7 linked regions of the Homo sapiens genome follow. The protein of the gene in region 2 purifies or fractionates together with the protein of the main gene of each other region. This does not show direct contact. Each region holds a gene or a part of one and is shown on either strand. Other genes may lie near its edges. The genes, in order: PRKCI, PDGFD, ACTR1B, KLHL22, MAEA, UBR1 and LRP2.

The links.
Region 1: the proteins of PDGFD (region 2) and PRKCI purify together in Homo sapiens (affinity purification with mass spectrometry; one large-scale study listed by BioGRID and IntAct). This does not show direct contact.
Region 3: the proteins of PDGFD (region 2) and ACTR1B purify together in Homo sapiens (affinity purification with mass spectrometry; 2 studies listed by BioGRID and IntAct, with this or other methods). This does not show direct contact.
Region 4: the proteins of PDGFD (region 2) and KLHL22 purify together in Homo sapiens (co-immunoprecipitation; 2 studies listed by BioGRID and IntAct, with this or other methods). This does not show direct contact.
Region 5: the proteins of PDGFD (region 2) and MAEA purify together in Homo sapiens (affinity purification with mass spectrometry; 2 studies listed by BioGRID and IntAct, with this or other methods). This does not show direct contact.
Region 6: the proteins of PDGFD (region 2) and UBR1 purify together in Homo sapiens (affinity purification with mass spectrometry; 2 studies listed by BioGRID and IntAct, with this or other methods). This does not show direct contact.
Region 7: the proteins of PDGFD (region 2) and LRP2 purify together in Homo sapiens (affinity purification with mass spectrometry; 2 studies listed by BioGRID and IntAct, with this or other methods). This does not show direct contact.

The regions. Positions count from the first base shown.
Region 1 is NC_000003.12:170,228,924-170,232,423, reverse strand, and holds part of PRKCI (protein kinase C iota type), read right to left. Parts: intron 1-3,500.
Region 2 is NC_000011.10:103,996,648-104,000,147, forward strand, and holds part of PDGFD (platelet-derived growth factor D isoform 1 precursor), read right to left. Parts: coding exon 3,404-3,500; intron 1-3,403. UniProt on the Homo sapiens protein: Growth factor that plays an essential role in the regulation of embryonic development, cell proliferation, cell migration, survival and chemotaxis. Potent mitogen for cells of mesenchymal origin. Plays an important role in wound healing.
Region 3 is NC_000002.12:97,655,439-97,658,241, reverse strand, and holds the end of ACTR1B (beta-centractin), read left to right. Parts: coding exon 1-18; intron 19-124; coding exon 125-299; intron 300-732; coding exon 733-794; intron 795-1,049; coding exon 1,050-1,090; intron 1,091-1,281; coding exon 1,282-1,384; 3' UTR 1,385-2,303; downstream 2,304-2,803. UniProt on the Homo sapiens protein: Component of a multi-subunit complex involved in microtubule based vesicle motility. It is associated with the centrosome.
Region 4 is NC_000022.11:20,489,296-20,492,795, reverse strand, and holds part of KLHL22 (kelch-like protein 22), read left to right. Parts: exon of another isoform or gene 1-2,965; coding exon of another isoform or gene 2,966-3,028; intron 3,029-3,500. UniProt on the Homo sapiens protein: Substrate-specific adapter of a BCR (BTB-CUL3-RBX1) E3 ubiquitin ligase complex required for chromosome alignment and localization of PLK1 at kinetochores.
Region 5 is NC_000004.12:1,292,891-1,296,390, reverse strand, and holds part of MAEA (E3 ubiquitin-protein transferase MAEA), read right to left. Parts: intron 1-3,500.
Region 6 is NC_000015.10:43,054,039-43,057,538, reverse strand, and holds part of UBR1 (E3 ubiquitin-protein ligase UBR1), read left to right. Parts: intron 1-1,096; coding exon 1,097-1,195; intron 1,196-2,639; coding exon 2,640-2,797; intron 2,798-3,500. UniProt on the Homo sapiens protein: E3 ubiquitin-protein ligase which is a component of the N-end rule pathway. Recognizes and binds proteins bearing specific N-terminal residues that are destabilizing according to the N-end rule, leading to their ubiquitination and subsequent degradation.
Region 7 is NC_000002.12:169,209,035-169,212,534, forward strand, and holds part of LRP2 (low-density lipoprotein receptor-related protein 2 precursor), read right to left. Parts: intron 3,174-3,500; coding exon 2,934-3,173; intron 608-2,933; coding exon 419-607; intron 1-418. UniProt on the Homo sapiens protein: Multiligand endocytic receptor. Acts together with CUBN to mediate endocytosis of high-density lipoproteins. Mediates receptor-mediated uptake of polybasic drugs such as aprotinin, aminoglycosides and polymyxin B.

The sequences.
Region 1 (3,500 bases), on a different chromosome or scaffold from region 2:
ATTGCACTCTAGCCTGGGTGATGGAGGAAGACACTGACTCAAAAAATGAAAAATAAATGAAAATAAATGAGTGCAGCCAGGCAAGGTGGCTCATGCCATAATCCCAGCACTTTGAAAGGCCAATGTGGGAGGATCGCTTCGGTACAGGAGTTCGAGGCCTGCCTGGGCAACACAGGGAGACCTTGTCTCTACAAAAAAATTAAAAATTAGCCAGACATAGTGGTGTGTGCCTACAGTCCCAACTACTTGGGAGGCTGAGGTAGGAGGACTGCGTGAGCCTGGGCAGTTAAGGCTGCAGTGAGCTGTGATTACACCACTGTACTCAGCCTGGGTGACAGAGTAGAAATGTGCCTCAAAAAAAAAAAAAGTGCAAAATACTTATCATGGTTCTTTTTCTTTTGTTCCACTTTTTTCAGTTGAGTTTTTTTTGAGACAGAGTCTCGCTCTGTCACCCAGGTTGAAGTGCAGTGGCACAATTACAGGCGTGAGCCACCACACTCGGCCTCAGTAACATTTCTGAATAACACTAACTTTAATTCTTTAAAAGCTTTTTTCTTTAATTGACAGAAATTTTTCTATTATATTTCACTAAGATAAGAGATTATTACTATAATTCAATACTGTCTAGAAAATTCTAGCCTATGGCTAAAAATAAATAAGGCTGGGCGCAGTGGCTCACACCTGTAATCCTAGCACTTTGGGAGGCCAAGGTGGGTGGATTACCTGAGGTCAGGCGTTCGAGACCAGTCTGGCCAACATGGCGAATCCCCATCTCTACTAAAACTACAAAAATTAGCCAGGTGTGGTGGTGCACGCCTGTAATCCTAGCTACTCAGGAGGCTGAGGCAGGAGAATCACTTGAACTTGGGACGCGGAGGTTGCAGTGAGCCGAGATCACGCCACTACACTCCAGCCTGGGCGACAGAGTGAGACTCTGTCTCAAAAAACATAAAATAAATAATAAATAAATAAATAAGATATAGAAAAGAAGAGGCAAAATTGCTACTTGCAGATGACATTATCTAGCTTAAAAATTCTAAGACAGTTAAATTATTAGTAAGGTGGAAAGTTTAATTTAAACATACAAAAAGAAAACAGTATGTAATAGGTCTACAAGAAGACCCCATTCACAAAAGCACATGATTATAAAATATATAGGAATAGGCCGGGCACGGTGGCTCAAGCCTGTAATCTCAACACTCCGGGAGGCCGAGGCAGATGGATCACCTGAGGTAAGGAGTTCCAGACCAGCCTGGCCAACATGGTGAAACCCCATTTTCACTAAAAATACAAAAATTAGCCAGGCATGGTAGCGCCTTGCCTGTAATCCCAGCTACTTGAGAGACTGAGACTGGAGAATCGCTTGAACCTGGGAGGCGGAGGTTGCAGTGAGCCAAGATCACGCCACTGCGCTCCAGCCTGGGTGACAGTGCAAGGCTCCATCTCAAAAAAAAAAAAAACAAAAAAAAAAAATTAAATAATGAATCAAGCCATTCCATAACATATATCAAAGTTAACTATAATATTACAATAATTAAACCAATAGTGGTATGTGCAAAAATAGATCTCTCCCCTAAAATCAATGAAACAATAGAAAGTACCTACGCACATTGTGGGAAATTTAGTACATAACAGAGTTACCATTTCAAATCAGTGGTGAAAGGACAATCTGCCCAATAATGGTATTAGAATAAATTTTGGAGAAAAAAAAAGTTGTGTCAGTACCCTATAAATGACTAAACCCCAAAATACCAGATTCACTGAAAAGATAATCACTTTAAAAGTTTCATAATAAGCCAGGCGCAGTGGCTCACGCCTAAAATCCCAGCACTTCGGGAGGCCACAGCGGGTGAATCACTTGAGGTCACGAGTTTGGGACCAGCCTGGCCAACATGGCAAAACCCTGTCTCTACTAAAAATAAAAAATTAGCCGGACATGGTGGCGCATGCCTGTAATCCCAGCTACTTGGGAGGCTGAGGCAGGAGAATCACTTCAACCCAGGAGGCAGAGGCTGCAGTGAGCCAGGATCGTGCCACTGCACTCCAGCCTGGGCGACTGAGCAAGACCTTGTCTCAAAAAACAAACAAAAATTAGCCGGGTGTTGTGGCGTGCGCCTATAATCCCAGCTACTTAGGAGGCTGAGGCAGGAGGATTGTTAGAACCCAGGAGGCAAAGGTTGCAGTAAGACGAGATCACGCCACTGGGTTCTACCCTGGGCAACAAAGCAAGACTCTGTCTCAAAAAAAAAAAAAAAAAAGTTGCATAATAGAAGAAAAATAGAATATTTTTAGATGAAAAACACTTTTACCTAAGACAGTAAATCCAGAAACTATCAAGGAAATTTTTAAAAAGGACAGGTTTGATGACATAAAAACGAAAAACTCCAGACTAGCAACAGATTGGGGAAATGCTGGCAACTTTAACAAAATGTCAATGTCCTGTCAACAAATTAATAAGAAAAATAATACAATAGAAAATGGGTAAAATAGGAACAATCCAGAAGAAATACAAATGATCATTAATATATAAAAGATACTTGTAAAAATAAATTACCATTTTTTGCCAATCTGACAGTCAAAAATTTAAAAGACAGATAACATGCAATGGGAATATAAGGCAGAAGCTTCACTAGTCCTGTTGTTAAGAATGTAAATTAAGCTCTTTTGGGAAACAATATCATATTTCAAGATAGGCATATCTTTGACCATATTTACAAGAATATGTATTAAATATAAGGAGGTTCCTTCAACATTATTTGAAATAGTGAGTTGATGAAGACAACTTTAAATGTTCATCAATCCGAAAAAAGATTAAACATATTATGGTGGCTGGGCGCAATGGCTCATGCCTGTAATTTCTACACTTTGAGAGGCCGAGGCAGGAGAATCACTTGAGCACAGGAGCTTGAGACCAGCCCCGTCCCTACAAAACATATTAAAAAAAATTAGCTGAGCCTAGTGGCGTGAGCTAATCCTAGCTACTCAGGAGGCTGAGGTGGGAGGACTGCTTGAACCCAGAGTGGTTGAGGCTGCAGAGGGCCTAGATCATGCCACTGCACTCCAGCGTAGGCAACAGAATCAGACTCTGTCTCTTAAAACAACAACAACAACTGTAGAACACTGTATTACCAACTATAAAGAGGTCTGTCTACCCTGGAATGAAAAGATGACCACGATTTTTAAAATCAAGTTGCAGATGCATGTGTGGAAATATGAACTCATTTATTGGAAAAATAAAAGGGTATGTCTGTGTGTGTGTATGCACATACATATCTATACTTATAAATATACCGATATGATATAGAATATCCCTAACTGTTAACAATGGCTATCTCTAGAAAGTGGGAGTGAGACAGCCATAAAAAATAATGAAATCACGTCTTCTACACCAGCATGGATGGAACTGAAGGCCATTATCCCTAGTCAAAAAAATCAGAAACAAAAAGCCAGATACCACATATTCTCACTTATAAGTGAGAGCTAAACAAAGGGTACACATG
Region 2 (3,500 bases):
TTAATTTACTGCATTCGGTGCTTTCTTGAGAAAGTAAATGACCTATATCTATATAGCTTACAAAATCAGTAATGCCATTACAGAAAATAAATGAATACACACGACTTGCTATATTCTCTTTTTGGAAACGATCTTTTGGAATGATCACGTCATAAAATATGAAACTTATCATGAAGGAAAGCATGTAACTTTAAGGAGAGATGTGTGCTAACCAATATTGGAAAAATCTGAGCTGGTTAAACCAGGGTGTGAATGAGCTTAAGACCATAAGTTCACCTCTGGCATTGGTCGGAGAAACTAGAATCCTGGGATTCAAGAAGACAGCAAAAGCTGCTTTAGTTATCCTTGTGGGCATTTGGTCTTCAAAGCACCTCCAGAGTGTTCCATCATTCTATCACATAGTAGGAGATCCTCAGTAACATAGTTTACATCTTCTAGGGAGCACTTATTCTATTTTCAGCTCCCTAAGATGTTGGAACCTTCTACTTGATAAGCTGAACTATTTCTTTCAGTTTTGGTCATCAGTATCTCGCTCCTACAATCTACTTTTCCACAGTGACTTCAGATGCTGAGGTCACAGGCAAATGATGGGCATTCAGGGTGAACAGTGGCAGAAATCTCACATCCATATTACAGTTTTCTGTTACAATCATCAGAAGGAATCATCATAAGAAACATTATTTCTGAATACATAGAGAAACCAATATGGCCTTCCTGGTCTTACTCATGCACCTCAGAGCTCTACTGGATTGGGCAAGGTAATGTAAAAAGAAAGTAAAAAATAATGATATTGTGACTAAATTTCTCTAACAGTGATTTACAAGGCCCTTATGTCCGTTGCCTCAGTTTCCTTATGGATAAAATAAGAAGGCTTATATAATTTTACCAGCTCCATATCTCTTGGGTGCTGTGTAAATTAATCACTTAATGTTTATATGGTGCTTGGAAGGTAAAAAGCACTAACAAAGTATCATTATGCAAGCAACAAAATATTACAATGTAAACATCAAGGAGGCTTTGGAACAGATGGTAGGAAATCAATTCCATTTCATTTTGTATACAATACATGTAAATCATATTTACTGCACAAAGCATGACTATAATTGAAACTTTTAATAACACCATAGGTCACTTTTGTTTAAAGAACACATCATTGTAACTTTAACTCTGAACCTGAAGTCAAGAGAGGGCTGTTTTATCTCTTAGGGAGGGTTCTGAGACAAGTCTCTGGTCTGTCTCTTTCCCGTCTTTCTCTCCTCTTTTCTACCTGCTATACTTCTACTTCCTTCCATAAATTTTGAGGAGCAACTAGATTTGATTAATGGTTCAGAAAGGAAACCATCCTCACTGTTCCTCCCTTAATTTCAAGGCCAGGATGTCAAAAGGACTCACTGCTAGGATCAAAACTCCAGCTCAGTAGTGGAGACCTGGCTTCCCTTCTGTGATATTGTAATAATAAGAAATATATATATTTGGTCTTTGTTCCTGGCACAGGCTCCTAAAACTCTTGGAATTTCTGAGTGCTGGGGTTAGAGGAGCATCTTTTTTTATTCATAATAAGCCCCCTTCCAACCATACCAGAATTTATCCTAATGAATAAATTCATTGCCTTTTGGAAGTACCTGTTGGGAGGCCCCGAGGTAGCTTCAGAATGGAGGCTCATCACCAGAAAGAACAAGACATGATTAGAGAGTTGTAAATTTTGGCTCCACCCCTAGACCTCTGGGGAGGGAGAGGGCCTGGAGATGGAGTTCAATCACCAATGATTTAATTAATCGTGCCTTCACAATGAGACTTCCATCAATACTCTTCTAGGCTGGTGAATACATCCAGGTGTTTCGAAGGTTGCAAACCCAGAGAAAGCACTCTTTCCATACATCTTGCCTATGTATCTCTTTCACTTGGCTGTTCCTCAGTTGCATCCTCTATAATAAACTGGTAATAGCAAGGAAACTGTTTCCTTGAGTTTTGTGAGCTGTTCTGGCAAATTATTCAACCCAAGAAGAGGGTTATGGAACCCCTATTTACAGCTGGTTGATCAGAAGTAGGAGAGGCTTGGAAGCTGCAACTGACATAGAACATGGAGGCAGTCTTGTGGGACTGAGCCTTAACTTGTGGGATCTGACACTGATTCCAGGTAGTGTCTGAATTGAATTGAATAGGACAAAACAAGCTGGTGTTGGAGGATTAACTGCTGTGGGAAAAAACCCTCACCTCACAGATTTGGTATTGGAAGTGTTCTATGGGCAGAAACAGATCATGGTACCCTCCACATCATCACCTTTAATAATCTTTTAATAGCGTCTTTTTCCCATGATTTTTTAGGCACAGAATATTAGTTCTTTTTTTTTGAGATGGAAAAGACGCAAGATCAGCATTAGTTTATTCTCTTTGTAAATATTAACTGGCTCTTCCTTAATGTATTCATCTCTGCTTTCTGGCATACATTACCCTCTATGGTCCTAGAAAGTAATAGTCAGTGCTGTTATTCTCAGCAAAATAGCAACATAATAAAAGCTGTCAGCATAATAAACATGCAACAGAGGACAACCAAATTTGAGGCCCCTCTTTTTATTATTCAAAGGAAAATAAACCCGCTGAAAGGATTTAGCAGTTCAGTAGTTCATTGGCAATGCAGAACAAGTGTGTGCAGTAAAGTACAAAAAAGAAAAAAAAAATCTTCCTCAAGTCTTATACATGCTAATTAAGCGAGTAAAATGCTGTGAGCGGACATTCAAAGAACAACAGTCCAGGCTTTCTTTGATAAATATGCTAAGAAGAGAGAAGATTATCAGACACAGCTTTCATCTTCTACTTGTGACCCAGAAACTGCAAGAAACAGACCCTTCTGAGGAGCACAGGGAATCTGGGGTGAGCTTTCTCTTCCTTCCCACCCGTATCTGAGGCCTTAACACTATGAATTCGGGGTCAGGCCCTGATAGCTTCCCCAACCATCATCTCCCAGTGCTGGCGTAATTCATTATGGGTAGGAAGGCCTGGGTCAGCGGGAGCCGGGCAGGGGTTTATGCTCCCTAAGCCCATGGCAGGCTTTGACCACACATGATGCAGCTGCCCGTAACCTGGGATGCTGGATACCTGTGCATAAATGCTGCTCTGTGCCTGGAAAAGGAGAGGACCTCCAGATTTCACCCTTCTTTGGAGGTCACACAGTCCTGACAGTTGCACAAGTGAGTTTCTGTGAGTACTGCCAGGTTATTCGGCTCTCTGCCTCAGCAGTCTACGCTATCTTGTCTGTTAGGGTCTTTAGGCTTTTTGAAAAAGAAGCGACACATGTTGGGTCCATTTAAAAGGCTCAAAAGGAATGTTTGATACGATGCTTTAAATTCATCTTTTTCTTTTTTCACCTTGAAATAGTACCGTAAAAATTTTTTTCCCAACTTACCTACAGATATCATTTTCTGCTTCCTCTAATCCAAACTGATTGTCAAACACTAGCTGTATCCGTGTATTCTCCTGAGAGTGAAGCCGCCATGTCAGGA
Region 3 (2,803 bases), on a different chromosome or scaffold from region 2:
GACGGCAGCACGCTTGATGTAAGTGGCCGGGCCTGGCACTGGAGTGGCAGCCGATGCCCAGCCTGGGGGAAGGGGTAGCCCGCTTCTCCAGGAAGCCTGTCTGCCTCAATCTTGTACACTAAAGGTGGGGCCTGCACGATTCCGGGCCCCCGAGCTGCTGTTCCAGCCGGACCTTGTCGGGGATGAGAGTGAGGGGCTCCATGAGGTGGTGGCCTTCGCCATACACAAGTCCGACATGGACCTGCGCCGGACGCTGTTCGCCAACATCGTGCTCTCAGGTGGCTCAACGCTTTTCAAAGGTACTGTGGCTTGAGAGTTGGTGGTGGTGAGACGAGGCCCAGGGCAGCTGGACCCTCAGAGAGTATACCCCTACCCAGAGCCATATTCTGTTGGCTTTTTGGTGGTGCTCAATGAACATTTTTTTTAACAGACCAAAATTTAAAATTAAATTTTGTTTACTCTGTGAATAGAGGAGAAGTTTACACAAGCTCTAAAGTGTATTGTGAGAGTCGAGCAAGGAGCATGTGCGGCTTCATCTCACGCTGCCTCTGTGAGGACGCAGGGCCCGCAGGCAGCCATGGGGCTGGATCATTTCTCAGCCTTGCCCTTCATCCTGGGAAGAGCTGCTGATAGAGGACCAGCAGTAGCTGGGGGCCCTGAAGGCTGGGTGCGGGAGCTAGCAGCGAGGAGGCCGGGTGCAGACCCCAGGCTCAGCCAGCTTTGTGTTCACAGGCTTCGGAGACCGATTACTCAGTGAAGTGAAGAAGCTTGCCCCAAAGGATATCAAAATCAAGGTGAGGTTACAGAAACTCCCCCTGGGGCACTAGGGCGCTGGCAGCCTTGGCATGGGGAGGAAGGTTGAATGCTGCCCCCAGACCCGCTCACCAGCTCACGTCCACCTAGTCCTGTTCTTCCCAAGGCTGCTGCTGCCACTCCCCAGCTTATGCCTTTGCTGTCAGGCTTCAGGACCTGGGGAAGGTGACCCCAAGGCTGGGAGGATGGCTTCTGGGTGGGGATCCACAGTTAACGTGGCCACTTCCTCCTTCTAGATCTCAGCCCCGCAGGAACGGCTGTACTCCACATGGATTGGGTGAGGCGGGGCTCAAGGGAGGGCTCTGGGAGGAGACCACTTTACCCTGGATGCTCCTCCCATTGTTGGCCTAGGCCACGTGGAGGTGGGTGGATTTCCCTCCCAAATTAGGGAAATGCAACTCTGAGCACCCAGGAAGGTGGTTGGCTCCCTGACAGGTCCACAGCAATACTATCCCTCCATCCCCACAGCGGCTCCATCCTGGCCTCGCTGGACACTTTTAAGAAGATGTGGGTGTCCAAAAAGGAGTATGAAGAGGATGGCTCCCGTGCTATTCATCGCAAAACTTTCTAGTGCCCAAGGAGGGCGGGGCATGTTGGGAGAGGGGGAGGGAGGGGAGACAGAGCCTTTAACCCTTTTTGGTCTTGGCTCGTATACTAGGCTTAGGGTCCCCTGCATGCCCTGAACCCCTGGGTGGGTGGCACAGCAGTGCCCCCCTGCAGCCTTCCCCTCTACACAGGACATGCACACACAAGTAACATTGAGCTGCATGGACAGGAGCCTTGAGCTGGCGTGTGGGAATTGAGCGCCATGTCAGGCTGTTGTGGGTATCCCCCTGGCAGGGCCAGCTAGGCCTGTGGTTCCCTGCTCCGACTCTCAGGGCTGCCTCCCTGAGCTCCAGGGCCAGAATGCCTGGATGCCTGGGTAGCCAGTTTGGGGAGTGGGCTGCAAGGGGCAGCCAGCAGCTCCCACTGGTGTGTCACTGCATCCATTGCCACCTCCTGTTCGTGACCTGACAGGGTGACACAGCCCCTTTCACACTCTGTCCTCCTATCTTCCTGGGTAGATGCCCTGGTGTAGGGCTGAGTACTGAATGGTCTTCCATCCCCAGCAAGGGGGTGCAGCCCAGGGTCAGGCCCTTCAGAGCCAGGGCAGAGGATGCACGGTGGCTAGAGCCGCTGCACTATCCTTTTCAGAGCACTTCATCCACTTGCTCCTCCCTCTACCCTCGGCACCCTGGGTGGGAAAGGGTTGATGCTCATCATTTATTGAGGGGAAGCCACTTAATAAGGAGTCAGACCTAAAAGGGGGTGGGGGACATTTTCTTACCTCACCCAAGAAAGAGGTCGTCACTTTTGCTGTGGCCAGGGCCCCACCTCCCTCTCTCAGATATGTACAATAATTTAACACGGTTGCCTGAAAAAAACTTTTGTAAATCATTATAGTAATAATTATGGACAAGGCCCAGTGTGTGGCTCTGTTTTCTTGTGGCTCTCTGTGCTATCGTTTGTTCTTCCATCCCTGGGGACTTTCAGAGAAAGGACCAGAGAGAATGCAGCAAGGCACTGGCTCTAGCTTAGCGGCATGAAGGTTTCAGTGGTTGGCCCGCCAACGTGGCACAAAAAGCCTCAGGAGGCTGGGCTCTCACCCTGTAGCATAATTCCCTCGCCTGTTACCTCCCCTGCTGCAGTCCACCAGGGGAAGTAGAACCAGGCTACCTTCTTTGCCCCCGGACCCTGGACAGGCCTATTTGAGCACCTCTGCTCACCCCATTCAGCCAGGGCTAAGGCTGGTGGACACCAGCAATGATGCAAGCTCACGCCTTCAGACAAGTCAGGATGGGGAAGGCAGGGAGAGGCAGAGAGGCTGTGAGCTTAGCCAGGCCCTAGAGGAATAGGCAGAAGAGCAGTGAGGAATTAGGGTTTGGAGAATGTCTGCTCTTTACTTTCTTAAGTGTTTGAGAACCTACAGTGTTTCCAGGATGGTGCCGTG
Region 4 (3,500 bases), on a different chromosome or scaffold from region 2:
ACATGGTGAAACCCCATTTCTGCTAAAAATGCAAGAAAATTAGCTGGGTGTGGTGGTGCACGCCTGTAATCCCAGCTACTGGGGAGGCTGAGGCAGGAGAATCACTTGAACCTGAGAGGCAGAGGTTGCAGTGAGCCAAGATCACACCACTGCACTCTAGCCTGGGTGACAGAGCGAGACTCCGTCTAAAAAAAAAAAAAAGGGCAGGTTTGAATGGTGGGGCATATTTGTCATGTTCTCTGTACAATGATAGAGGGAGAAGTAATCGAGCTAGACCTTGACCAATATGGGACTATGAGAGACAGAATGGCCTAGATGGGTGACTAAAGGTGTTCAGGGGATGACAGGTATCCCTTTTGGACTAAGGACTGCTGATGGGGCTGAGTAGGTAAGGCTTGAAGGAGAGCAGCCTGGGGAGGATGAGACAAGAGGTAGGGAAACTGGTAGGGGCATCACTGCTGTGGTCTGACCCAGAGTGGTGGCCCTGGAGGAGTGGAGGGTGGCTGTCTGAGATGGAGGAGAGGTGAAGGAATCAGAACTAGTAGGTTCATAGGGCACATGGGTTAGAAAGGAAAAATATTAAAACAGTGAGGTTTCCAAGATGGAAATGGTAGCTTTGATAGTAAAATTAGACAAGTTGGAGGGCTACTAGCTAGATTAGGCACTGAGCTGTAGGTGAAACTGGGAATGTGAACCACTGGGAAAGAAGGATGGGCTCGAGCAGGGTGTGTGGGATGAAAGAGAGAGGTCAGAAAAGGGAGAATTATCATAGAGCAGAGTTTCCAGGCAAGAGAATCCTAAGTGAGAGGTGGTCATGGGGTATACACCTTGGCTGTGGCCATCTCTGGGGCCTTGGTGAGAAAGATGAGCCAGCCCAGGAGGGGGAAAGGAATGGGTGGGTGGCTGGATAGAGGTCCCAGGTCCTGGAGGCAGACTCAGGGGCAGGCACAGATAACTGAGTGTGTTTGATGGGAAGCAGTAGAGCATCCAGGGGATGGGGTTGGGGGTGGCCCTGAGCCTCAGTAGTGAAGAGAGAGACCTCTTCTTTTTGGCAAGTTTTATATCAGCATATATTTTTCATTTTTTCTTTTAAAGATATATAATCATGTGCCACACAGTGATGTTTCCGTCAATGACAGACCAGACCACATGAAGGATGGTGGTCCCATATTTTTACTGTACCTTGTCTGTGTTTAGATACACAAATTCCATTGTGTTACAGTTGCCTATAGTATTCAGTACTGTGATATTGTGAAATATATATTTGGTCTTGTCTCATTTCTTGGCATACAACTTCTAAAATCTTTGGACTTTCCAGAGTGATGCCTTTTTGTATGCTGGCCAGCAGCCCCTAGGTAGCTTCAGGATGGGGGCTGGTGACAGGAAAGGCCAAGGCAGGCATAAGAGGGTTGGGACTTTCAGCCTCACCTCTCAACCTCCGGAGAGGGGAGACAGGCTGAAGATTAAGTTCATCACCAATGGCCAGTGATTTAATCAGTCATGCCTACATAATGAAGCTTCCATAAAAATTCTGAATGACTGGGTTTGGAAAACTTCTGGATAGTTGAACACATGGAGGCTCCTAAAGAGTGATGTTCCTGGAGAGGGCCTGGAAGCTCTGCACCACTTCCCACATGTCTGGCCCCATGCATCTCTTCATCTGTATCCTTTGCAATACCCTTTATAACAAACCAGTAGACATGAGTATTTTCCTGAGTTCTGTGAGTCGCTCTAACAAATTAGTTGAACCCAAGAAGGGGATCTTGGGAACCCAATTTATAGCCTATTGGTCAGAAGCACAGGTGAAACAACCTGGGAGACTCAGCCCTCAACCTGTGGGATCAGACACTGTCTCCAGGTAGTGTTAGAGTTGAATTAGAGCAGGGGTCCGCAACCCCCAGGCCTCAGACCTGTATCAGTCTGTGGCTGGTTAGGAACCAGGTGGCACAACAGGAGGTGAGTGGAGGGTGATCCAGCATTACCACCTGAGCTCCACCTCCTGTCAGATCAGAGGTGGCATCAGATTCTCATAGGAGCACAAACCCTGTTGTGAACCATGCATGTGAGGGGTCCAGATTGTGTGCTCCGAAAGAGAATCTAGCTAATGCCTGATAATCTGAGGTGGAACAGTTTGATCCCGAAACCATTCCCCGACCCCGTGGAAAAATTGTCTTCCAAGAAAGTGGTCCCTAGTGCCAAAAAGATTGGGGACTGCTGAATTAGAAGACACCCAGCTGGTATCTGTGGCAGAATTGATTGCTTGCTTGTTAATGGGGAAAAACCCTCACACATTTGGTCACAGAAGTCTCCTGTGTTTGTTGTTGTGGTATAAGAGGAGAGGAAAAACAGTGTGTTTTTTTCATTCAGAACTACAGTAACATGCTGTACAAGTATGTAGCTTAGGAGCAATTGGCTGTACCTTATGGCCTAGATGTGTAGTAGTCTCTACCACCTAGGTTTGTGTAGGTGTACCCTTTGATGTTCACACACTGAGGAAATTGCCTCCAGCGATATAAGTCTCAGAATGTATCCCCAACATTAAGTGATGCATGACTGGAGGTAATTGGAGAATAAACATATTTTGGGGAGAGGAAAGTAGGATGAAGTGAGGTGGAGAAGACAGATGTTCACATCTTGTAGCTGACTGTGCTGTGCCTACAGAGCCTGCAGCTTGGCCATGCCTCACAGTGTGGGACTGGCCACTCCCTGACCTGAACAGCTGGCTATCCACAGTCACTTTTGGTTGCTCCATGGCAAAAGTGCATTTGCAGTAGGTTCATTTTACTGATTAGGTTTTAGAGGCTCCAATTCAAATCAGTTTGCGGTTTTTGAACGTACTGACTCAATTATTAGAAGATAATCTTTAATTTAAAAGGCAATGCAGATGAATTTAAATGCATCAGGTTCAATCACAGTTACTGTGCTTGACTCTCAGAATTTCAGTAAAGGAAAGTAGGCCCTGGAAATGCCACCCCCTTGGCACCCACCTCCCAGACTCCTGGCTGTGTGTCTCCTGACCACTACTCAGGTCTTGCCATTTTTATGCATCCATTACTATGAGGAAGAACCCAATTTTGTTCATTCAATGGGAGGGAGGAAGAGCTCTTGAGAACCTGGTGTGTGCTTATGCTTCATGTTCATTGTTTTACCAATTTTAGAATACCCCAATGGGGTAGGTACTTTTATCTCTCTTTTTAAAATTGGGGAGCTCGAGGCTCAGTTTGGTCATGTTGTAAGTCCCTGTGGAGTTGGGCTCCAACCCAGGTCAGTCTGTTTCCCAAAACCCTTCTGTTTGACTTTGCCGCTGAAGAAGATACAATGAGATGAAGAGTCTTGGGCATGATGGCACACAGGTCATCAGGAAGAAGGCCATCAGGAAGTTGGACTAGAGGTGGGAGGGGAGAAGGAATTAGGGGATTTGGAAATAGAGGGAAAACAGGTGAGCCTGAGGGAGGCACAGGAGCAAGGGGAGCAACAGAGCTGGCCAGTCTGTGTGTGGT
Region 5 (3,500 bases), on a different chromosome or scaffold from region 2:
GCTGCACAGGCACAGGTGAGGGGGGCACAGGTGCGGGTGGGGGGGCACAGGTGAGGGTAGCATAGGTGAGGTGCAGATGTAGGTGGGGGGCGCACGTGAAGGTGGTGCAGGAGCAGGTGAGGGAGGAGCAGGTGAGGGAGGAGCAGGTGAGGGGGGCACAGGCACAGGTGGGGGGCACAGGTGAGGGCAGCACAGGTGAGGGCAGTGCAGACGTGGGTGAGGGGGGCACAGGTGCGGGTGGGGGGGCACAGGTGAGGGTAGCATAGGTGAGGTGCAGATGTAGGTGGGGGGCGCACGTGAAGGTGGTGCAGGAGCAGGTGAGGGAGGAGCAGGTGAGGGAGGAGCAGGTGAGGGGGGCACAGGCACAGGTGGGGGGCACAGGTGAGGGCAGCACAGGTGAGGGCAGTGCAGACGTGGGTGAGGGGGGCACAGGTGCGGGCGAGGGTGGCACAGGTGTGGGTGAGGGGGTGCAGGTGAAGGCAGCACAGGTGAGGGCGGTGCAGACACAGGTGAAGGGGCAAAGGCGCAGGTGTGGTGGGCACCGGCATGGGTGAGGAGGGCACAGGCGTGGGTGAGGGGGCACAGGCGCTGGGGAGGGGGGCACAGGCGCGGGTGAGGGGGGCAGAGGCACGGGTGAGGGGGCACAGGCGCGGGTGAGGGGGTACAGGAGCGGGTGAGGGGGGTACAGGTGTGGGTGAGGGGGTATAGGAGCGGGTGAGGGGGTACAGGAGCGGGTGAGGGGGGTACAGGTACGGGTGATGGGGCTCATCCACCACGGGTGTGGGAGCAGGTGCAGGTCAGGCAGGGTCTGCGTGACAGGCATGGGCGAGCATGAAGTAGGAGGGAAAGTCTGAGAGAAGGACAGGTATGAAAGGCTCGCCTGGGAGGAGAGGAAGGAGGCTGCTCTGGGCCCCTCCCTCGAGTGGGGCAGCACTCAGGGTCCCGGTCCGGGTCCACAGTCAGCCATCAGCACAGCAGGTGCTTTCTTCTGCTCAGCCACATTCAGCTCAACAGTCACTAAATGTGGTATTAACACAGTGAATAATTCTTTTTGTTCAGGTTTTCAAAATAATGGCCCCTAGCTATAACGATTCTGAAATAACAGACCTAAAAATCATCAGCAGTTACCCCGGCAGGAAGTGTGCTTTGCGATGCCTGGGTCAGCACCCAGACATCCCCACTCGGCCTGAAGCCCCCAGAGGGTGGGGCTCGCAGCACAGCCTCTCTGCAGACGGGGCAGTCACATGCTACAGGCACCGGCCGGCCTTGTCTTCATTCTGGTGCCAATGTGTCTCCTTGGGCTTGCTTCCCATTCTGCTGACCCCTGTACCCACAGACCGAGTCACTGCCCAGCACCCAGTCTCACTGTGAGACCCTCCCTGCACAGCTCTGGGACACCCCCAGCCACATCACCCCAATGGTGCTGTGTGCCTGTGTGCCTACTGGGGTGAGAGCCGGCCAGGACTTCAACACGGTCCACAGAGCCTCACCCCAAAACTTAGCTCCGCCAACCAGCTCACAATATCGCATTCACTGGAGGAAGCTCATCCCCACCCCCGCCCCTGCCCCTGCCCCTGCCCCCGGCCCCACCCCCGTCCCCTGCCACTGTCCAACATCACCTCAACCTCATCAGCGTCTTTAAAGGATCTGAGATGTCTGTGTGTGCTTGTGCTGATGCCTCCCTCCCACCGGAGCGTAGACAGGGGCCTCACTTGTCTCCCCATCATGCTAGCCCAGGGCCTGACTGTGCAGGGCCTGACCGTACCTGGCCGATGGAGGCTCTCAGACCACTGCTGCGGAGGGGGGTATGGGAGAAGCTAAGTGCACCTGCAGCCCTGCTCTGCAGCCCGGCGGCGGTGCCTTGCTTAGGTCCCAGGGCCGCTCCAGGCCTCACGTCAGTACTGCCTCCAACCTAGCCCAGCCATTACGGTGAATCAGGCATTAAAAAGCACTTTCTTGACTTGAAATGTGTTAAAAAAATAATACTTAAAAAAACAAAAACAAAACCAACCCCCCAGCTAGCAGTGAATTCAAGTCTACATCCTTATCTCAGCCTTGCCCAACCAGCTGGAAAGGCCCAGGCCTGGGAGGGAAGACCTGTGCCAGCGCGGAGGCCGCGGAAGCCAGCCCAGGGCCAAACCACCAGCAAACGGTGGGAGAGGCGAGGGGAGTGGAGCTGGGAGCCACAAAGGGCAGACCATGGCTCTTCTGGGCAGAAGGAATTTCCACTGTGCTCTAGAGACCGGGCGGATTCTGGAGGGCTGTGACGTTACTGCAGATAAAGTACATCGAAAAAGCCGGCCACAGAAGAGGTGGAGACCCGGCCTAAGACTCCTCAGACACGGCATCACCAGGGTCCAACCCAATGTGTGTGTCAGTAAGTCAAACGCTTCGTGGTTGCCTGTGTTTCTCACACTCGAGAACACATGATCCTCCCAAATCCAGCCAAGATGGAGTGAAGAAAACTACAAAAGGCGCAGGAGCAGTTACAACTTCAGCACACAGCTGGCACCCGAACTCCCTACCACAGGCACAGACCCAGGCTGTGAGGCATCAGGGCCATGCCTGGGCAACCAGACTGTCATCAAACCAAAGGCAGAACATGCAAATCTTCCTGTAGAGAATTCAGACACCTGAGAATGCAACCACAAGCCCGGTGTTTCTCAGCCTGTCCTCTGGGGAGAGGACAGCATCACCACCTTGGGTGTGAGAGGACTCACTGGAGCTGGGAACCCTTGCTGGGGCTCCAGGAGAGGAGAGGTGGGCCCAGGTGGGGTTCACAGAGAGGAGCCAGGTCCAGACCAGGGTCTCCAGGTGATGAACACCACTTCCCGCCCTGGGCTGTGCAGACACCCATGTGAAATTCTCTAAACTATTATTTTTCTTCGGCTATCTGAAGGGAAATAGTAGGAGTAAATACACCAAAATGTTAATGAAGTTCTCTCTGTGCAGCAGGGTAACTTGAAGAAAAAACAAATTACTTTTATTTATTTATTATTTGAGACAGGGTCTCACTCTGTCACCCAGGCTGGAGGGCAGTGGTGCAATCTCGGTTCACCACAGCCTGGATCTCCTGGCTCAAGTGATCCTCTCGCCTCAGCCTCCCAATTAGCTGGGACTACAGGCGCACACCACCGCACCCAACTCATCAAATTACTTTTATAATCAGAAAAAAAAAAACCTTTTACAAAATAATGAAAGCAAGGGCTTCCAATTCAAGATGGTGAACTATGCATGTTGAATTGAAAGATGGTGAATTCCTGAGGTCAGGAGTTCAAGACCAGCTGGACAACATGGAGAAACCACGTCTCTACTAAAAAATACAAAAAATTAGCTGGGCATGGTGGCGGGTGCCTGTAATCTCAGCTACTCGGGAGGCTGAGGTAGGAGAATTGCTTGAATCTGGGAGGCAGAGGTTGCAGTGAGCTGAGATTGTGCCACCGCGCTCCAGCCTGGGCAACAGAGTGAGACTCCGTCTCAAAAAAGAAAAAAAAAAAAAA
Region 6 (3,500 bases), on a different chromosome or scaffold from region 2:
CTATCTACCAAATTAGATTGCAAGGGTATACAGATCAAGGACTCCTTTGAATCTTTTATTTTGCCTTATATAAGGCAATCATACTTGCCAGTCATACTTGTTGATTTCCTCTGATTTTGAGTTGCAGTCAATTCTGTAAGACTTAAGATAGATATAGGACCCAAGATGGAATTGGAAGCAGAGAAAGAAATAATGATTGTTGTAGGCAAATGACACTGTGGGATAAGATACCTGCATTACCTGGATTTTATATGCAGACTTAAAAGTAACTAAGACATTTGTTGTATGTCTTATCCTTCAGCAGTGATGGCAACTCAAGATGTTCTCTTCTAAAACTCTTCAGATATAGAATATTGGACCATATGTGTGATCTGAAATGAAATTTTGTTTTCTTATACAAAAGCTAATCTCCCTACTTAGATGATTTTTTTTGTACACCATGGTTACCCCTTAAACTTTGTAGGAATTCTGGAGGGTAAAGTATCTAACTTAAAGTAGGTTAAGTATCCAACTTTGTGCCTTACACATAATAGATGCCTATTATGTGACTGAGTATATTCCTATTTTTGTTCTCCCAGTATATCAGGGTTGTTTTGCAGCTGTTATGTACCAGTATGGGAAAGAAGTTATTTGCAGCCAGCATCCATTCTGTTTAAGGCTGGATTCAATCTGATTGGTTGGTTTTTCTGGGTCATATCAGTTGTTAAATACTTTGAATATATTCCCTGCCCAATACCATTAGAGTGGAAGCTGCTAAAGATTGCCCCAGATTCTGTTTGGAGAAAGGATAAACTATACCATTGCAGTCCTCTGTTTTTTGTTTGTTTGTTTGTTTGTTTTTTAACCTATGTGTATATTTTAATAGTTTCCACTTCTATCTCTGCTAAATTGAGTAGGTGAATTTTTACTTGATTTGTTGTTTGTTATTCTCCTTCTAAGATATTTTTGCTGATCATAATATCTTGCCTTAATAAATAGGAATTATATTACTTGACATTTTATAGATAGAAACAAACCTGCAGCAGTTATTAAAATTGGGATTTTTTAAAGGTCTTTAGTAGTGATTTATAATTGATTCTCTACTTATATATTTCAGTATTATAAACAACTGCAGAAAGAATATATCAGTGATGATCATGACAGAAGTATCTCTATAACTGCACTTTCAGTTCAGATGTTTACTGTTCCTACTCTGGTATGTATTGATTATTCCTTTTCAGTCTTTCTAAGTAAAACTTGTTTTGCTTTGTAAGAATTCCACTTAATGTTGAATCAAATTAGAACAATGTTAGAATCACTAAGTTGGGCTATGTGAATACTTTAGTGCTACCCAAGGACTAGTTAACTAGGCGCTGCCTTGGTTCAGATGTCCTCGTCAATGCAGATGACACCTAGAGCTGGTTTCTTACTTTCTAGAGTAACTTATGAACACTGCCTTTTCAATACCAAAAATATTTTATTTTTAAGTTATTGTTTGTAGGCAGATAGAATAAGATAAAACTAAGAAGTGGGAGGGTGTGCCTGTCAAGCATTTGGGAGAGAGGGTGCTGCATAGGCCTGGGAGGAGAGTGGAAGATTCTGCTTCCTTTGTATACCACTTCTTTTCTTTGTTTTTTGTTTCTTGAGACAGAGTCTTGGCTGGGTTGCCCTGGCTGGAGTGCAATGGGACGACCTGGGCTCACTGCAGCCTCCGCCTCCCGGGTTCAAGCGATTCTCATGCCTCAGCCACCCAAGTAGCTGGGACTACGGGCAGGCACCACCACGCCTGGTTGATTTTTGTATTTTTAGTAGAGACGGGGTTTCACCATGTTGGCCAGGCTGGTCTCAAACTCCTGACCTCAGGTGATCTGCCAGCCTTAGCCTCCCAAAGTGCTGGGATTACAAGTGTGAGCCACCGCGCCCAGCCCTACTTCTTTTCTTGTCTGGAATTAGATAGTTATCCAAACTTGGTTAATTGTTTCTACTTTACTTTTTCAAAAGGATGGAGAGGAGAGTTTAGATTGGGGTAAGGAGGAGATTTCAGAATAGATCGTAGTGTGCTAGAAGTCATGAAGTATATCTTTGTTATACTTGCTCATTGTGTGATTTTTTTTTTTGAGATGAAGTCTCTCTCTGTCACTCAGGCTGGGGTGTAGTAGCACGATCTCGGCTCACTGCAACCTCCGCCTCCTGGTTCAAGCGATTCTCCTGCCTCAGCCTCCTGAATAACTGAGATTACAGGCATTGCCACCACACCTGGCTAATTTTTGTATTTTTTGTGGAGATGGGGTTTTGCCATGTTGACCAGGATAGTCTCGAACTCCTGAGTTCAGGTGATCCGCCTGCCTCGGCCTCCCAAAGTCCTGGGATTACAGGCATGAGCCACCACATTACTGATGATAAACATTTATCTAGATAACCTGTCTAATGGGCTTGGAGTATCCAGATAGGTGTTGTCTAGTTACTGAGGAGTAGGGAATTTTTTCTTTTAGAAAATAACTTCTTAGTAGTTGCTATTCAGTGAAACTAAGGACTGTGTTTAACATTCAATAACAAACATTTATTAAAAATGACATACTGACTAACCAAATGAATGAATAAATTAAGTCCATACCACAATGAGTTAATGCTAAAGAAAATATTCTTGAAATATTCCGCAGGCTCGACATCTTATTGAAGAGCAGAATGTTATCTCTGTCATTACTGAAACTCTGCTAGAAGTTTTACCTGAGTACTTGGACAGGAACAATAAATTCAACTTCCAGGGTTATAGCCAGGACAAATTGGGAAGAGTATATGCAGTAATATGTGACCTAAAGTAAGTTGTTCAAGTCAAAAGGTGAGGGCACCTGTTAAACTCAGTGTGCTTATTTGCTGTGTCTTATAAGTAATCCTGTGATCATTTTGGTTATCCAGAATTCTCTTTATAATGATGGCAAGTACAAAGAACTGTTACTGCCTCGCGTTAATAAATGTCTTCAGTGAAGGCTTCTTATTGAGTTGTAAAACCTGGTTAGTAAAGAAGGTATTGAGGAGAGGCCCATTACAGGAACTTGGGATCTCCTGGGGTCACCAAATGCATTGCCATTGTAATTACCATACTTTTCATTCACTTCCACTCACACACTTTGGTTCTGTCCTTCCTATATAGTCTCTTTGTGCATAGTTTCAGACAATCTATTGACATAAATTTCTTTCTTTTTTTTTTTGAGACAGGGTCTCGCTGTGTTGCCCAAGCTGGAGTGCAGTGATGCAAACATGGCTCACTGAAGCCTCAACCTCCTGGGCTCCAGTGATCCTCCTGCCTCAGCCTCCCATGTAGCTGGGACCACAGGCACGTGCCACCATGCCTGGCAAATTTTTTATTGTTTTGTAGAGACGGAGTCTCACTTTTTGTTGCCCAGGCTGACTTGGACTCCTGGGGTCAAGCAGTCCTTCTGCTTTGGCCTCCCATAGTGTTGGGATTACAGTCATGAGCTACTGCGGCTGGCTGTTAACATTTTTTTAACTCCTTTTTGCTA
Region 7 (3,500 bases), on a different chromosome or scaffold from region 2:
AGAATTTGGCAACTAAAATTGCTCAGCTTCAAAGCAAATGAATGCTGTTCCATAGTTTATATTTTTATATCTCTTTCTCTTGAAAATTTAGAAAATTTCTAATGCAGAAATCAGGTGCAAATCTAAGTGTAAAAAAAACAAATCCACATAATTTAATATTTTAGCCACTTTTGTCTCCAGATTATGTTAATAACAGAAGAAAATGATAAGGATTAATTTGTTATAAATCTGTAAACTGAAACACCGTATCATTTATCAAATAGACACGTAGCTTAATCTAGATTCAATGTATCTTAAATGGTCTTAATAATTGTCTAGAAAAACAAACCTGTAGCACATGGAGTTAGGCTAAACTTTCTAGCATAAAATAAGATGACAGAGATGCAAACATATTAAAATCACCATATAGCTTACATACCTGCTACCCAATCCACTGCAATACCCCGGACTCCATTTTCTCCTATTCCATGTGTCACAATGTTCATCAGAGAAGATCCATCTGGTTTAATTCTACGGATCGCATTATCAGATGCCACTGAGCTGCTAAAATCACACCAATAAATAAAGCCAGAGGACACATCCACATCCACATGCAGTGCGTTTCGTCCTGGAAGTTAAGAAAAGATCATTAAAAAATGCTGTCACTGAAATTAGAACTTTTAAATGTCTGCCCTTCCTCTCAAACCCTCATTCCCAACCCCCTGCTCTGAGCATCTCCCCATTACAAAATGAAACCCTTTTTTCCCAGTTGCAGTGAGCAGACCCACATCTTGGTTTCTACTCTTTCCCACAATAAGGAGCTCTGGCTCCCGGGAGAAATGTTGATTATAGGTTTAGGCAGGGAAGGTACGAAGTGAGTGTGAAACATCTTATTGTACCAAGAAACAAGGCATACACAGAAATATACAGGTCGCCACTTGAAGAGGTTCTCCCTGGCCAAAATGGATCCACTAAAACATCAAAAGAAGGATTACAGTAATTGACTGTAACACACTGAATTTAAAAAATAAAAATTTGAGCCCATAATAATAATAAATTATTTAAAAAGTAAACCGGGGAGACACGAAGAGCTTTCCTTTATAGAAGAATATTATCTAACAAATGTAAAGGGAATGCTAAAATAAGAAAATCACCATTTTGCAATCCTCGATTAAATAATCATTTCAAACAAGGATCATCCATGGCTGCCAAAACCAATGGGTAAAAGGTGCTTGGGAGCCAAGACATTCACAGGGCCTAAGTGTGATTGCATAGATTCCACCAAAATTAAGAAGGAAAAAAAATACAGCTTTAAAAAGCAGCAGTGTAGCAGTGACCACCTTAACCAAGTGATCAAACTCAAATGCCACTAAGAGCAGGGCAAGCTGACATTATGTTCTTCCTAATAAGATTCTGTATCAACTAACACAGCATAACCTATAAAGTATTATTGCTAAATGTATTTAACCTTGATCTAATCAAGCAATTAGACCTAACTTCCATTTCATGAGAACTGCAGGGTAAAAAATGAAAGACAGACTAAATATTCAGACAAATCCTCAGTGTGGGATTCTCAAAGACAACAGGTCTGCCTCTTTAAAACATCAATGTCATAGCAAAAAGCTAGAGGCAACTACTCCAAACTGGAAGAAACTAATGAGATATTCCCAGTGCAGTGCATGAATCTTGATTAGATCTTGGATGGAACAAAACAGCTATATATAAAATATTGTGAGGCCAACTGGAGAAATATGATTATGAATATTTCATAATGCCCTTTGAAACTGTATGCTAACATATGTAGGGGTAAAGTGGCATGGTATTAAAATTTATTTTTAAAAGGTTCATAAAAAATGAATGTGAATGCATATGCATGTACACACACACACATACAAATTGAGAGCTCAAATGTGAAGAAATGTTAACAACTGTTAAATCTTGGTAAAGGGTATAAGGATATTTCCTAAATCTTTCAACGTTTCTGTGTTTGAACATTTTTTTAATGAAAAGCTGGGAGAAAAAAACTATTGAATTTGTCATATCTGTACAAGATGATAACTTAGATCCATAACTTTTTAGATATGGAAAAACAAAGATGAGTCATGGGTCCACGTGAACATGACCATCAGGCAGGAGGACGTGTGGGACTGGAAGCTCTCTGATTCCCTTCTCCAGGTGCATTTCTGTATTTTCTGACCATCTCTACAACCCCTTCATTGACTTCATCCTTTTTTCCTTCCTTTCTACCCTCTATTTCTCTCTTTAGCCTGTGACATTCTCCTAGCGATGTTAGAAAACTCTTAGTTCCTCTTGTGCTAAGGTATACCTAAAAACCTTGGCTCATCTAGGAAGCAAGTGATCGTTTCATACATTCACAGTATGTAAGCACAAAGTGCTGCAAAAATATGATTACTAAAGAGGGACTGACACTGTGAACTCTTTTGCTTCAATTCACCAAATATATATTAATAAATCATATTTGTGGACTATTTCATTACCATATTAAATAGTAGTATACCTTCTACCATAAATCTCCATTAATAATCAGAAATAGGGCACAGTTCTTTGGAACACCAACTCTGTAGTACTTCTTGCAAACCCATCCTACATTCTATATTGCTCTGGGCCTGTGGTTCTTAGCGTGATCCATGGGCCAGCACCGTCAGCATGCCCTGGGAGCTTATTAGGAGTGCAGATTCTCTGGCCCTACCCTAGACTACAAAATCAGAAAAATCTGGGGACGAGGTCTGGAGCTGTGTTGGCGTGAGCCCTCCAGGTGATTCTGAGACACACTAAAGTTTGAAAAACACTTTAGGCTGTGCCAGTTGATTTAAAGGGAAAGGAAAGCTTCATTATGCACTGAATCCACACATGAAGAAATGTTTTCATGGCACCAGGGATTTCAACCTGGTGCCAGATGAAGTCAAATCTTACTTATATTGGAGTTGGCATACCTTGGCCTGCCACCGGCACCATGGTTTCTGAATGATCTGACAATTCCAAGCTAAAGCCTCTGATTGCAGACAGCATTGAAACAACAATGAAAGAGTTATATGGAGAGCAGGACCGATTATCAGGATTGAGTTTAAATCCAGTGGCACAGGCGCAGGAAAACAATCCTCCTGGTACAGGCAGGCAAATCTGCTGACAGGCATTCATGTTGTTGCTACAGCCATTTGAGGATTCGGCGGCATCTAAATGAAAACAAAATCCATTTGTAACTTTTGATCCTAGCTACTCGCCACCCCATCTCAAATTTCTTTAATTGGGTCACCAAATAATTTATTCTAAAAATTAATAACCAACATATAGTAGCTGAGTTAGCAATCTAAAAACAACATCGGAGAGACTAGAGCTTATACAATAACACCTAAAGGTATGAAACCAGTAACCCAACTATTGTATAATAGTTAGAGAATGGGGCTTCACTTGTTTTCTTCTACAAATCATGCGAGGATTAGGGAGGTCAGTATATAAATCTGCTCATAATTTGCCTATGAACTGGCACTTAAAATAATATG